2 separate regions of the Homo sapiens genome follow, and region 2 is linked to region 1. Evidence: fine-mapped expression QTL. A gene starts in region 1. The other region holds a variant in brackets. All regions are shown on one strand. Distances are between the middles of the regions.

Region 1 (8,349 bases):
GACAGATGAAAGTTTAAGAAATATTGGCCTTTACCATAAGACCTCGCTTCTGAATTTCTGCATGATATATATTTCCATGTGGAGATCTAATAAGAACCTCAGATTCAATCTGTCTAAAACTGACTCATTATTTTGCCCCACCCCTTTTCTTTCCCTAGCTTAGTGAATACAGCACAAAACTGCCTAAGCCAAAAACCTAACATCTTTGACTTCTCCCTCCCCTGCCACGCCTCAACCAATCACCAAGGCAGTTCATTTTACTTTCAAAGTACCTCTGGATCCATCCATCCTTTTTGCCAGTATCCTGGCCCAGGCCTCTAGCATCTTTCCCCTGGATTAGCAATTCAGATTCCTACTCACCTAATTCTGGCTCCGGTTTTATTGTTCCTTCCAGAAAGAGGGAAATTTCTAAAGGGTAAATCTAATCATTTCACTCTACTGCTTAAAAATCCTTCAATGGCTCTCTGTTGCCCTCAAGATAAAGCATGTAACTATAAAGCTTTCATCACCTGATCTCTCTTTCGGGCTTTAAATCGCACACCATCATTCACGACACCAGCTGTACTGAATTTTAGTTCCTGAAAAGCAGCAGGTTTTCTTCTGTTAACCCCTCTGACACGATGTTACTCAGCTCTCTTCACTGGGCTAATTTCTATTTATTCTTCGTGATCCAGTTTTGATGTCACTTTCTTCATAAAGCCATCTCTCACCTCCACAAATGTTATACTCAACAGCATCTCCAAGTACAGTACTTATCATCGCACTGTGCAGTAACCATATATCTCCTCCTCTAAATTTCAAGCTCTACCTAGAATAAGAACCACGTCTATTTTTTTCATATCACAATCCTAGAACCAAAGCAGCAATATAGTATAAAACTGAAAGCATGAACTCTAGTCAGAGAGGCCCAAAAAGTGTTACAAGCTGTGAGAATTTGGCATAGTTACTTAAACTTTAAGTTTCCTCACCTGTAAAGTATAAATAGTGCCACCTTTCAAGACTATTCACAGATTAAATGTGAAATGTGAAATATTTGGCACAGTGCTTGATACACAGAAATGTTAGCTATTATTACTTAATACAGTATATATCAAAGAAAATATTTGCTAAATGAATACACTGTTCACAAATTATTAAAAACATATTTTAATAATGCTAACCTCATATAATTCATTATATTTCCAACTAAAGTATATAATTATATAAGGAGGTTTCAGTTTAAATCATGTCCATGGCACTGAAGTTTCTTATAGACAATATTTAGTTGAGTTATAAAGCAGAATGTTCAAAAAGAATGACCTGTGCCTCATTTTCAGGAACAATTTGTTTATGAAGTCGAATCTGCTCCAAGCCAGGACTTTCTAGAGAATTTGGGGAAGTGTTACAAATTGAGGCAGTTACATTATACCTTGCTGACTGATAAAAGCTGTAGTATTCAAGTCTATTTTCCCTTGAGTTTTCTGATGCCTTTAGTTTTTGTTTAAACTGAACAACTTTGTAGATCAAAAAAATGATTAAAACACAAGCTAAGATGAAAAAAGCTAGCAAAATGTCAAAAGCCTCATTCAACTTCTCAACTTCTTGTGTACAAATTAGAGATGTTTTCCCTGACATTGAAGCAGCATCATTCGGTAGAGCACTGTTTTTTTCCAAGTTCAAGGTAACAGAAGTAGTAAGTTGTATTTGCACAGGTAACACTGCTGTAGTCTCTAATGGATTACCAAAGGCATTCTCTTGAAAAAATCTACCAGCAGGTGAAGTAGGAATTCGTTCCCAGAAAGTAATGTTCTCAGTCTCAGTATTTTCCAGAGGACTGCCATTTGTGGTTACTTTATGCCAGGCCATCATTAGCGCAGTAGTCTTGTGATGAATATGAGGAGATTTTACAACAGCCCAAGCTCTGGATACATTTATTGAAGATGTAACACAATTTGTAATGTTAATATAACGTAATGCTCTGCCACGCATGGATGGGGGATTCTGACAATAGATGTTTAGAGTAATGGCTGAAGATGCTAGCCAGTCTCGAAGGCCCAAAAGTTTGCAGTTACATTCCCAAGGATTAGAATTTGCCTGAAGATGAATCAATGAAGACAACGGCTTAAGGACCCTTGGATGCAAGGCTGTAAGATTATTAAATGACAGATTAAGGATCTTCAAAGATGCTCCCATATTTTCAAATGTATCATTATCAATGCTAATTATTCTGTTTCTATCTAACTTAAGGTAAATTAAATTCTTTAACAAACTGAATGTGTCAGAATTTAAATTCTCTAAATCATTATGACTTAAGATCAAATGTTTAAGATTATTAATTCCACTAAACCCATCCCTAGTAACATTCCTAATTCTTGAATTTTTCAGGAGGAGGTATTCCAGATTGGCAAGTCCTTTAAATGCAAAGGGCTGTATTGCTTCAATAGGATTATGAGACAAAGAAAGTCTTCTAAGACTTTTAAGTACTTCAAAGGCATTTGATGGTACTTTTGTTAAATTATTACTTCCTAAATACAAACAAGCAAGGTTTTCAAGATGTTGAAAGCCTGATTCTGATATCCTCAAAATGTTATTGTTTGATAAATCAAGTATCCGAAGAGCAACCATACCAACAAAGGTACCACTCCCAAGGACAGTGAGGCGATTCCTTTGTAGATTTAAGTACTGAACTGAAACTAGATCATTAAATACTCCTCTCGGAACAAAAGATACCTGATTATACTGTAAATATAAATTACGAAGATTTAAAAGTCCCTTAAATATTCCAGGATCTAAGCGTTTGATGAAATTATTATTTAGAAATAGAAAATATAGATGCCTCAATTGAACAAAGGCTTTTGGATATACATACAGAATGTTAGAATTATCCAAATACAATGCTACAAGAGAATGAAGTCCTGTTAATTCACTTTCATTTATATAAGATATATTATTCCCAGTCAGATACAGAAAAACTGTACTTTCAGGAAAATTCTTAGGAATACTCGAAAGGCCTAAGTTACGGCAGTTAATTTGTCTCCCAGTGCAGAGCTGACAAACAGACGAACATCCAAGTATTTCTTTGTGGAGTAATAATAAAAGATAACAGGTAACAACCAGAAACAGTCGTAGGCAAGGCAGAGAAAACTGTAATCCACACATATCCCTGTTCTTGGATTTTCTGTTCAGATCAGAATTGGCTATAAAAAGAGAAGGTAAAGCTTTAAATCACGAAAACTTCATCAAATGAATTTTTTTTATAATACTATAACTTCTGTATTCTATTTTAATTAGGATCAGCCAATAATACTATCATAAATCATACCATGGTAATAGCAAAAAATAATGAGTATGGAATACGTTCTAGAATTATTAACATGATCAGGCCATTAACCCACTATTTGACAAAATAGTTCAGATTAATGAAACATTTGCTAAGTTAACTTAAAAATTACAATTGATTACAACACAGGTGACAAATGATGTAGGAATGAGAATCTTTGAATTTAATATGTCCCTTTAACAACATAAAGTCTAATATCAAATAACATTATAATTTATGAAAATACAAATTCACTACAGAACAATTAAATTCTAAATTACAGTTTTTCACAGAACTATTTTTCATGTCAGCTAGAAGTTCATATTTAAGTAAATAATCTTACCAAGAAAAGGAAATTCGTATTATTAACACTCAGCTGATTCAGTAAAGGTTTTCTTTTTAAATCTGAAGAACGACATTTCTTAACTCCAGTTTGTTCTGTGGCACTGCTGACCTCCACCCCACCACTTTTTTTTTTTTTTTTTTAAGTCACCGTTTGCTCAGGAAACACCACTCTTCACATTGGTTCCTTTACAGTCAATGTGTAAAACAGAGGTTGCCATGGATACAGGAAGCTAAGAGACAGGAAGTAATTTTATCTGTGTTTCAAAAGTATTGCTGAACGGAAATCTCAGGAACTTATTTTTTCAGAATGCAGTTAGAGTTTTCCTAATATACACATTGAAATATCTCCTATAATATAAAAATAATAGTTTTTAAAGGATACTTGAAAACATTAGTTATTCAGAACCCAAATATCAATCAACAGACTCTAGCTATCAAACAACATAGCTACTGAATGGAAAAGGCTAGTTCAAATAAGATGTATATCGAGTAATACAATTTTTTGTAAACTTTTTAATGAATAAAATATTTATGTTGTGTTAAATACGCATTGAAGACTTAAACTTTATGCTTTATTCCTTTAATAAAAATAGGGGAAAAAATTTAGAATGAACATAAATGTTGTTATATTATCCTCCAGTGCTCTTTTTAAAATTTTCAAAATATTTTTGGTTGCAAAAAATACTGAGTACTACTTAATACGTGAGGTACTAATTGGTAGTAAGCTACTAATTAGTAGTAACGCACTAATTGGTTGTGTTGGGTTATAAGATGTTAAGAAGCTGCATACCAACTTACTGACATAGGTTATCTTTGCAAGAAAAATTGGGGAGAGTAAAAGAGGCGATGTTTCGCCCTATATATATCTGTATCAGTTTGAATCTTTTAGAACAAAAATGGAGAATTTTTTAACGTCATTTTTCAAGAATTTAAAGAATCGGATATAAATTGTTTATATTATATATTGTTCAGTCATTAACTTTCTTTCATTAACTTTAAGCTAGTTGCTTAAGCTTTCTAATTCTGACTTTTATTAATATTACTAATAGCCTGATAATATTCCTAAAATATCAAGTTATATAATTGTATACAACTCTCCTTTGATATTAAAGCAGTTTCATTTCACATCAACAATTACTTTAGAAATAATATGAATTATGTCCATATTAGAAAGCTGAAATAATACCTAGCATTATCTTTCTATGACTAAAAATTCAGCAATGCATACTGGATAGCAGATCGTTATCAAAATGACTTATGATTCTTACACCTATCCATTATGGCTGGTTACTGTTATTGCTATTTTATGCATTAAAAATGGAAAACAAAACAAGTGACAGAAATGATATGAATTTGAGGTAGGGGCTATGTTTCTCAGGTCCATTTTGTTTAGTACTTCCAATAATATACAAGGTGATATGAAGCTTGTCCCATGGATTTTTCAATTTCTTGGGAAAAATTCAGAGAAAGGGTCCTTTGAAATAAAAATAAAATTAAAGAGAAAAAACCCACAAAGTAATATAACCAGAGTATGAATTAATTTTGTTCTTTATGCCAAAAATATCCAAAGCAGTAAAGAACACTTATTAGGATGCAAAGGTAAAATTTTTAGGAAACTGTATTAAGGAAAAATGACAAAATAAAATCTCACTTCTCACATTCTAAAAACTGAAGGAAACTAAACTGACTTCAACAAAACAAGCAAATATAAATAGTACACTGTAACTCTCAGGTTGAATGGTTTAAAAAAAAATTCCTATCTCCAGCAAAACAAAGTTTAGTCTTTCTGTTCATTTAGGAGTTGCTGTTCTTAGAGACAACTGATCAACAATGATTCCTCATTATCCTTTTCTGATTACTAATGTTCATTACAACTATTACTGAACACTACGCTCAACCTCTTAAATTAGTCTTCTATTTCTTTCCAGGAAATTGACTCATTGAGCTGTTTTCCTCTCATTCTTGTTGCTGAACCTTCTTTTACACTGCCTTTGTCTTCAAATCATCTCATGCTTCTGGTATTAATACACAACTATTCTCTTTTCCATTCAGATTCTCCCCATACAAAAACAAGAATGTATAAATAACAGAGCAATTGTTCCATTAGCTCTTTTAAATATACATCATCTGTATGGATGCATGTATTCTTTTGAGACACAGTCTTGCTCTGTCGGCTGGGTTGGAGTGCAACAATGTGAGTACAGCTCACCACAGCATCGACCTCCCAGTCTCAAGTGATCCTCTTCCCTCAGCCTCTTGAGTAGCTAGGACTGCAGGTGCATGCCACCATGCTTTTTCTTATTTTTGTAAAGACGGAGTCTTGCCATTCTGCTCAGGCTGGTCTTGAACTAGTAGGTTCAAGTAATCCTCCCACCTTGGCCTCCCAAAGTGCTGGGATTACAGGTGTGAGCCACTGCGTCCAGCCTATATGTATTTAGATATATACCATCTATATATAAACCAATCAAGATTGGTTTACATATAAAGAATGGCTTATAATAACAGCAGTTACTGATTTTATGGACCTTAAAAGTCACTGATGGAACTAAAATCAAGAGAATGAAAATGTGAAATGGGATTTGCAATTAAAAATAATCCAGCTCTTCCTGCCATCATGAAGCCTGTCGAGGCCTGCTTGGAACATGACTTCTAAAAGGCAAGTATTTCTGGAAGGCTGTCATCCAAGGCCATTTTTGCGCTATAAGCAGGGTCTCTGGAACCAAAGGGAGCACACAAATCTTCTTAAAACTGAAGGTGTTTATGCCCAAGATGAAACTGAATTCTATTTGGGCAATAAATGTGCTTACGCACACAAAGCAAAGAACAACAAGTGACTCCTGGCAGCAAACCAAACAAAATCAGAGTATTCTAGAGAAAGGTAACTTGGGCCCAAGGAAACATTGGCATGGTTTTTGCCAAATTCCAAAGCGATCCTTCTGCTAAGGCCATTGGACATAGATGCTGTAACCCCTTAAAGATTTAAACTAATGAAAGGTAAATAAAGTGGACTTGTGTTCCTGGAAAAAAAAATTTAGCAAACAATTTGAGAATTCTTTTGCTCAATGTAGGAGATAAATTTTAATGAGGGGCAGTATATCTCAATATAGACCTCTTATCAGTTGCAAGAAAAAAAAATAACAACATAGTAACTATACACAGTGGGGAAATCAGATAACACCTTGACCAGCATTAACATCATCAGTGAGAAACAGATGAGCACCATGTGACTTTGCCTGTGATATTCCAAGAGGGACACATCACTTATGCAATATTCTAACGAGAGATGCATACATAAATCTAACCATAAGGAAATATCAAACCACAAATGAGGAACACTCTATTCTGCTGGGGGAGGTGGGGAGAGGATGGATGGGAGACAAAAACAGAGAGGCAATTGGAAAGATGGAGAGAGATTATAAGGAGTGGATTATTTAAAAATGTTATAAGAGAAAAAGAAAAGACTGAGGAAATGACATGACAGAGTAAAAGAGACTACAAAAACACAAGAACTAAAACAATAATTGGTCCTAGACTGTAAGTACTGAGGAGTAAGAGACCATGGCAAATACAACTTACACAGAAATGGTTCAGAATATAAAACATCTATCTAGTTATCTGACAGAAAATGTGTATCACGCAACAAACTGGGACAAAAGTTAACAACAGGTGATTCTGGGTAAAGGTCATATGAGTGTTCTTTATTGTTCTTGCAGTGTTTTTCTAAGTCTGAAATAATTTCTAAGTGAAAATATCATGACAGTAGCTATGATATCCGTGTAAAATTTGTCCATGAGCATTACTGCCAAGATATGTCACCATTTCTAAGTTTTTAATGTATGCTTTAAAATAAAAACAGAAACAAATATTGTGCTGCCATAACATGGCAAAACTATGAATATCTCTATTTGCTCAATTGTCAACAAGAAAATCAACTAAGAAATTTTTAGCTGCAAATCTATTTATGAGAATAAAAAATAAACTTTATGCACTTTATGCATGAGAAGCATAAAATTTCAACTATGCCTGTGACTATGCGGCTTTAAAAGCAAACTGATACTTTCTAAGGATGTACTGACACTAGGACACTTTCAAGGAACATTATTAATCACCCCCCAGCATGACTTTAGAAGAACATTTTTAACTTCTTGATCTCTGTTCCTGTTACACAGTCATTCTGAGAAGCATATTTTATTTCCATGGACAATTTTAGGTACCATCCTCATTGCGAGTATATGATGATAAATTTCTTTGATGTATATTGGCATAGTTTTACACTGCAAAGCACAGAAAGCAGAACTATTAAACAGAAGGGCTGTTTCAACTTAGAAAAAGCTAGCAGAGATGGATTAGAATTCAAAATATCTCCTCTTTCCCCTGGCTCCACATGAAACCTTTGGAACACTAATCTCTCTTCTGACCCTATCCACCACCTTCTGGGTTTTGCTGAGATAGACTAATCTCACTCAGCAGATTATAGTTCAGATCTGAGCTATATTAGAATTTCTCTTTCGTGCAAATCCCTTCCATTTTGATGGTTCTTATTTTATGCTTATATTACAATTTCCAGTTTACCATAGTCCCTAAAATCCCTAAAGTTTTAAACACACAAACACACGCACATGCACCAGAAGAAGAGAGGAGGGAGTAATTAGCCTAACAGATGATTTAATAAGGCTATGAGAGAGCTAAGCCTCTTCCAATAACTA
Region 2 (8,349 bases), 28 kb before region 1:
AAAATCATTTCAGTAATTTTTGAAGGAAAAAAGAAATAATCAGATGGCAAGCAATAAAGTAACAAATATGAGTACCTCTATGTTAACCAGGTTAACATAGCATTCAAGCCTATGCTTTTATTCACTCAAACAGTATGATAAAATATATCCAGTAATATTACAAGTACCTCATCTATGGCTGCCACTGTGGTTTGGTGGGCCAGAGGCAGCCGGTGGATGCCAACAACTGGTTGTTGCCTCACCCATGACTGCTGTTATTCCCTCCTGAGAGCTAGGCAGTGCTTCCCTAAATGGGACTGCTACAATTACAGTATCGCCAACAGCCACATCCAATGTGGTCCCAGGAGCAGGCGCCAGAAGCAGACCTACACATGTGACTACGAGTTGACCTCATATTTGCTGTAGCACCTGGACACACAACAGTTAGAACCTCATTTTCAGAAGCAACCCTTGCAGTCACCTGCTGGACATTAGGACACTGAATTATGTGCTCCCAGACCCCTGGGGACACCAACTAACATGGCAGTCTAATGAAGTGCCCATCACCTCACCCAGCATAAACTCAAACCAGGAAGACATTGGTGACTGGGAGGCCTAGGGGCAGGCCCAGCTCTTCTCCAGACTGCTCCACTAGAGATGTCAAAATGACACAATTGTGTTGTCAGCCCTACATCTCAGTTCTGTCTCTACACTGGTCTAGGAGCTCCTTGAGGGCAGGGACTGTGTCTCTCATTCATTCATTGGTCCATCCAGTCACTTATCCATTCAACAAACATTTGCTGAACACCTGATATACATCATACATGCTGTTAGGCACTAGGGAGCTTGTATCAATCATATATTTGGCCTTATTATAGGGATTTGATCTTCCATGACTGTGAGAACCAGTTAAACGTCTAGTCCATGGAAGGCTGTTTCTTTTTGTGCTGGTGATGCTATAGCCTGAAGTCATATGGCCCAAGGGACAGGGCAAAGTGAAACTGCAAGAATGAGTAGAACCTACAAGAACAGATGGGAACACCCTTTAGCCTCTCATCACTTCCAAGTCTTCAACTTTGCTGATGGGGTATCTTCTAAGAGAAGCCAATGCCTTCATTATTAAACTAGGCATGTGCCTGGCTCTAAAGTAAGAGAAGCTAGAGAGGATCTGGCAGGACGTGGAGTTGGTGCAGTTCCAGCTGCTTCCCCACACCAACATGGTGAGCCAGCAGACAAGTGACAACACACATTAGCTGCAACATCACACTCTGCTGACTTTCTGAATAAAAATCATATGAGGCTACACAGTGTATGAGTCCTACTGCATAACATTCCAGAAAAGACAAAACGATGGAGACAGTAAAAACACCAGGGGCTCAGGGGAGGGAGGGATGACTAGGCAGAGCACAGGATTTTGAAGGCAGTGAAACTCTTACGTATGATACTACAATGTTGGATACACATCGTTATACATTTATTAAGACCCATAGAATGTACAATACCAGAGTGAACCCTAACATAAACTATCAATTGTCAGTGATGATGTGTCAATGTAGGGTCATCAGCTGTAACAAATTTAACACTGTGGTACAGGATGTGGACAGTGGGGGAGGTTGCATCTATGTGGGGGACACGGCATATATGGGAATTAAAATGGCAAATGAGAAAACTCAGTGGGGAGAAAAGGGACAAAAGGGCTATTCCAGATGGAGGACTAGCATGTAATAGAGGCAGAAACCATATAACGTGTGGAGACAAGTCATTTGGTTTAGCCAGTGAAGGAGATAGAATGAGAATACAGGACAAAGTTTAAAAGGAGGCAGACTGCAGAGGTCTTTCTTAAAAGAGTGTCAAGGGGTTTAATTCTTATTCTAGTGGTTTTCAACCCTGGTTATATACCAAAAGAACATGTGAAGCTTTTAGAAAATATGTATGCCTGATTCCCAGGCCCCCAGATACAGTAAGTCTGAAATAGAGAGGGTGAGGGCTATAGCTTGTCCAAAGGTAAAAACAGCAAAGAATATGGTACTCTAGGATTTAAGAGGACAAAGTAAGGAAAAATTGTAGGGCTCCAGATAAAGTTCAAAATAGATCTACCAAAAGAAAAGGAATGATTAGTAAGGAAGAAGAGACTGTGATGAGAGAGAAATGTTGGAGTTCAAGGTTTGGGGTCAAGATGTGGCATGAGAGGCCAGGAGTGGTGGCTCATGCCTGTAATCCCAGCACTTTGGGAGGCCAAGGCGGGTGGATCACTTGAGGTCAGGAGTTCAGGAACAGCCTGGCCAACATGGTGAAACCCCGTCTCTAACCTAAAAATACAAAAATTATCCAGCAGTGGTGGTGCACACCTGTAATCCCAGCTACTTGGGAGGCTGAAGCAGGAGAATCGCTTGAACCCGGGAGGCAGAGGTTGCAGTGAGCTGAGATAGCAGGTTGCAGTGAGCTGAGATAGCACCACTGCACTCCAGCCTGGGTGACAGAGTAAGACTCTCCAAAAAAAAAAAAAAGAGATGTGGCATGATACTAGAAGTGATAAATGTTAACTGCGCAAGTTGAGAAAAGAAAAAAGGTCTCTCAACTCATAACCTGGGTGGACTGCATGTAAGCTGAATACTAAAAAGTATTTTCAACAATGCTATAATTTATCTTGATTACTGAATGCTATAAGGTAAGGATTCTCAAAGGGCAGTTCTGAAGCCACCAATATGATGATGAATTATTCTCATATTATTTGCAAAAGGAAAATGTATTTTATGCATACATTAAAAATTACTGATATTTAATTAAGAACAACACAGTACCTTATCAGTACCAATACAATTCTATCTTTATAGTAGTTCTGCTGAGGTTTTCTAGAAGCAAATGGGAGCAGGCAAAAGAATCAATCTACTGGTTCTCAGTGGTCAAAATCATCCAGAGAGAGTTTAAAAACTCCCACCCCAAGCCACTACCACAGGGTGCCCTGTTGACATTATATTTGGAATAAAGATTTCCAGAAAACCTTATGAAATAGTTTCAACTCATAACAGTGTCACTTTCCTTTTGATGATGTATTCTAAATTCTAACAAGTACAAGTCTAAAGAAAGCTTCTAGATCCAAAAGTTAGACAAAATGAAAGTTTTCAGAGTTGATGAGTAAAGGAGGGGAAAGCAGGGAGGGGAAAATGAGGGAGATATCTCTGTGCTCTAAGAGAAAAATGTTAGCTATGTGTAGGCTCTGATTGCAGGACAATTCCATCCTCACAGTGCAGCACTGTTCTCCATCCTTGAGCCAGTACAGTATTTGGCAAGAGCAGTACAGAAACAATAATCACTCTAAGACAGTACAAAAGCCATGCTCAGGATTTGTTATATTTGGCATGAAACTTAGGATGTACTTATAAATTCATCAAATAAAATGCAACTCAACCTAACGTATAGTTTACTTACATATGCTGGAGCCTAGGCAAAAGACTATGATGCCAAGCTTGCCAGAGCTGCAGTCTACACATACTTGATTGCATTAAAAAGCTAAGTAAAGCTGCAGATTATGTTTGCCATATATATGTTTCAATTTAAAACACATTCAAATGATAATGCAGCAGATGGGACTACAGGCGCATGCCACCACGCCCGGCTAATTTTTTTGTATTTTTAGTAGAGATGGGGTTTCACTGTGTTAGCCAGGGTGGTCTCGATCTCCTGACTTCGTGATCTGCCTATCTCGGCCTCCCGAAGTGCTGGGATTACAGGCGTGAGCCACCGTACCCGGCCGCACACATTTTAACTTCAGTGGTTTGTAATGAGACATAAGGGTTCTCCTTTTTTTTTTTTTTTTTTTTTTTTTTAAGACAGGGTCTCGTTCTGTTGTCTAGGCTGGAGTACCAGTGGCATGATTTTGGCTCACTGCAACCTCCGTCTCCCATGTTCAAGCAATCCTCCCACCTCAGCCTCCCAAGTAGCTGGGACTACAGATGCACGCCATCATGCCCAGCTAAATTTTTTTTTTTTTTAGAGGCAGGATTCACCTATGTTGCCCAGGCTGGTCTTGAACTCCTAGGCTCAAGCGATTTGCCCACCTCGGCCTCCCAAAGTACTGGGATTACAGGCATAAGCCACCACGCCTGGCCCAACTTTTCTCTTTCTGAATGAGCTCAACTGGTAACAGATTTGCTCATTAGCTTGATTCAGCCATTCTGCAATATACACATATTTTAAAACACCATGTTGTACACCACAGATACATACAGTTTTCATTTGCCCATTTAAAAAAAACCAAGTAATAATATGAAAAAATAGGGAGGGTGGAGTGGCTCACACCTGTAATGCCGGCACTTTGGAAGGCTGACAAGGGAGGATCTCTTGAGCCTAAGAGTTCGAGACCAGCCTAAGCAACAAAGTGGGACCCTGTCTCTACAAAACATGTAAAAATTAGCGTAGTGGCATGCACATGCGGTCTCAGCTACACAGGAAGCTGAGACAGGAAGGTTCTTTGAGCCCAGGAAGTTGAGGCTGAGTAAACCATGTTTGCACCCATTGCACTCCAACCTG[G/A]ACAACAGAGCAAGACTATCCCAAAAAAGTAAATAAAATAATAATAATAATAATAATAATAATACTTTGTTAGCTGGTATCATAGAGTTGTGAGAAAGCATTAAAATGCTCAAAACTAGAATTTGGAAATTACAACTTACAAGTGACTATGAGTCAGATTTCAAAAAATTACAAAAAACTAAAGATGTTAATAAATTAGCTGAAGTCTTTATAGTAAAGGTCATAAAATTATTATTCTACTAATTAGAATATACTGGACAGAAAGGAAACATATATTAAATGAAATGCTTGAGCTGCATGTGCTATTCTAAGTATTATTTCACCGAAATGAAAGGTAGAGAGAGAGGCTGAATGAAAAGGGAGATCAAAAGGCTGGACAGCTTAATAGCTTTCCTGAGTGTAAATTTCATCCTTATTTGAAATAAAATATAGAGAATTCTCAGAAACGTATGGAAAATTATTTGGCACATTTGATATAATATTAATCATCTGCCTTTCTGAACTACAATCACTACTGCTATTCTCTACCAAAGCAGCTGCTGAAACACAGACACCACATTTTATGGACTACTTTAAGACAACAATGACAGTAAGCGAATCAAATTTTCATTTATGTGACCTTGGAACTAAGCAGCTATATTTTTCTTCCTAGCAAATAATTTCATTTTAAAATGAGAAAAGCCTTTGCTAATTTTTTTGTAAAGAATAATTCATAACCATTTGCCAGCAAATGTTTACTCTCCCCCTTTGAAGAAACAACCAAGATATTGCTGGATAGTTCTCAAAAAATGTCTAACGTTATAGACAATACAGTTCAAGATTGACGTAATTACTGAAAAAATACATTAACTTATAATTCTAAGAGATAAGTGAAACAAATTTTCTTTGTTTAAAGTTGTTGGAAAATTAGCATGTATTCATAATTGGATTTATTAAATGTTATACAATACACAATCCCAGCTTCAGTCAAAAACTGCTGTGGTATCCTCAGCATATCTAAGAGCAGTGGGTATCCAAGAGCAAGACCAAGGTACTGGAAATCTTACTAGAGATGATAATATAAATCTATATTAAATATCTACTGTAGTAAGTAACTTAAAATCGGCCACTTAAAAAAATAATGGTTGTTTTATAAACCAATACTACATATAATTAGAATGATAAAGTGGGGGTGTGAGCAGTAGAAAGACAAATGTTAGGCTATACTTAGAGATTATTACTGTAGGTGCAAAAAAAAATACTTTCCACGTATTTAAGATACCACATAGGCCAGGCATGGTGGCTCACACCTGCAATCCCAGCACTTTGGGAGGCCAAGGTGGGCAGATCACCTGAGGTCAGGAGTTCAAGACCAGCTTGGCCAACATGGCAAAACCCCGTGCCCACTAAAAATACAAAAAAATTAGCCAGACATGGTGGCACACACTTGTAGTCCCAGCTACTCGGGAGGCTGAGGTATGGTTACTGCTTGAACCTGGGAGGCGGAGGTTGCAGAGAGCCGAGATCATACCACTGCACTCCAGCCTGGGTGATAGAGCGAGACTCCATTGCAAAACAAAACAAAACAAAACAACCACAAAACAGTTTAATTTCAAAGGAAAAATACTTCTCGAGATATATAGTCATGCATTGCTTAAAGATGAGCATACATTCTGAGAAATGCATTGTTAGGCAAGTTCCTTGTGTAAACATTATGGAGTGTGCTTACACAAACCTAGATGGTACAGCCTACAATACACCTAGGCTACATGGTATAACCTATTGCTCCTAGGCAACAAATCTGTACAGCATGTTACTGTAGCGAATACTGTAGGCAACTGTAACCAAGTAGTATCTGTGTATCTAAACACATCAAAACACATAAAAGGTACAGTAAAAATATGGTATCATTATCTTATCGGACCACTATCATATGCAGTGTGCTGTTGACCGAAATGTTGTGTTGCTGAGCAGTGCATGACTGCGCAGCAGGTCCTTGCTATCATCATTTCATTGTAACTTTGAAAAGGAAAACAAATGGATTTGGGCTGGGTCCACTGTCTGTGTGGAGTTTGCATGTTCTCTCCATGTCTGCGTGACTTTTCTCTGGGTACTCCAGTTTCCTCCCACATCCCAAAGCTGTGCACACTAGGTGAACTGGCGTGTTTAAATTGTTCCCATCTGAGTGTAAGTGTGTGCAAGTGCACCCTGTCAGGAAATGGTGTCCTGTCCAGGACTGGTTCCCGTCTTGCACCCTTAGCTGCTAGGACAGGCTCCAGCCACCCACTACCGTAAAGCAGAATAAGTGGGTTGCAAAAATGAAAGAATGAATGAATACAAATTATTGTCATACAAATGCATATAAATGCTGCTCTATGAAAGCTTTCAGCGAGCTCGCCAGATTTGTTCGTTTTTGAAGTGCATGGCAGTAGGAGGTGCTCCTTACAATTTTCACTTTGCAAACATTTATTCCTTGATTTAACCCACCATCACGACCATCATCACTCACTGATTCACCAAAAACAAGGGAAAATAATTTAACTTGTTTTCATTAATCTTTCTTAAACGTATATATAGCTCACACTTACTTCAATGTTAAATATTAGAAGTGTTTTGGATCTTTATTAAGAAGTTCGGTGATGTTTTTGTGACCAGAAATATGCTGTAGGAGCTTCTTGTTTAGATCAATTAGCCCATGGTACAACTAGGTTCATTATATGTTTTTCTGCTTCAAGTTACAGTTTCCAAGAAACTATCAATGATGTTAAATGAGGACTTATTATATGTACAAACATTGTTTTGGGGGAAGAAAAGTAATGATATTAAGAGTTTTAACAGTAATTTTTCAGTTCGAAGACCCTGGAAATATGCTAATCCAATTTCTGCCGCTTTTCACAGATGAGGCAAACGGATCTACAAAGACAAGGTGACTTGCTCAAGGTCACAAGTAATAGTAAAAAAGGACTAGAATTCAGGTCTTAAGAATCTTTGGATGTTGTCCTTTCCTCTACACTATGTGCTAGGGAGATGATACCTAGCATAAAAGCAAAGTAAAATGAGTTAAATTCAAACAGTTTAAAAGAAGGCTCTCAGAGCAGTGCAATGTTAGCTATAAGCTAAGGATTAGGCCCTTGAGAGCTAACGTGCTGTAATGCGAGGTGTAAATACAATGATCAGATTAAAATGACAGCTAACTCTTACAGAGTAATTACTAGGTATCCATAACCATTTTAATTATTTATTCTATCTATGAGGTAGATACAATTGTTTTCATTTTGCAAATGAGGAAAGAAGGTATAATAAAGTTAGTTAAATGATGAGGCCAGAAGACAAGAAAAGATTCCAAAAGAAAAGGGAAAAAATAGTTTCTTATGTACCTATTTTCTATTTATGGTAAAAATAAATATTTAAACATTCACGATTATATATAATATTAAAAGGCAAGATATTTTAGATATTTCCTTTTTTTTTGTTCTTTTCCCCTTATCAGATTCCTCTGGTGAGAATTAGTGGTTTTTACAACAAGTTAGTGGTTAACTTAAGGGCATTTTTATAAAAGCCTGTGATGCAGATCAGCAAAAGTTCATGTGAAGATCTATAAAATAATAGGGAATGCAAGGAAATTTCAGTACATCTCCTCAAAACAGAAGAATAAACATTTCAACTTAAATAAGGTTTGCAGGTCACACATACCTTCCATAAGTAAAACACTAAATCATCTGCTCTGCACTAAGATAAGCAACAGTTATTTCAGATGAAAAGTTAACCTCAACTTTCTGTACTAGGAATAAAATGTATCTGTTTTAGGGTACACCTTACATTAATTCTGTAACATGGGATAGATGGATAGACATATAGCTG

Evidence for each region. PIP is the estimated chance that this variant, and not a neighbour inherited with it, causes the effect.
Region 2: its variant is fine-mapped to the expression of LRRC70 in whole blood (TOPMed, PIP above 0.99). The same link has a PIP of 0.9 or more in T cells and blood mononuclear cells.

Annotation. Positions count from the first base shown.
Region 1 is chr5:62,574,228-62,582,576 of GRCh38, reverse strand. It overlaps LRRC70 (leucine rich repeat containing 70), which reads right to left and starts at 3,758. Exons shown (of 2, transcript NM_181506.5): 1 at 3,642-3,758; 2 at 1,131-3,176. The coding sequence starts at 3,138. The coding sequence ends at 1,270. All of the region lies in intron 27 of IPO11 (importin 11), which reads right to left. It overlaps IPO11-LRRC70 (IPO11-LRRC70 readthrough), which reads right to left and starts at 3,842. Exons shown (of 4, transcript NR_073584.1): 1 at 3,642-3,842. It also overlaps the pseudogene RPL35AP14.
Region 2 is chr5:62,601,938-62,610,286 of GRCh38, reverse strand. The region is part of intron 29 of IPO11 (importin 11); the gene reads right to left. All of the region lies in intron 3 of IPO11-LRRC70 (IPO11-LRRC70 readthrough), which reads right to left. Among named protein-coding and RNA genes, the nearest start is that of LRRC70, 27 kb to the right of the region's middle. RefSeq lists a silencer at 143-261. The variant G/A (reference allele first, on the strand shown) is at 4,510.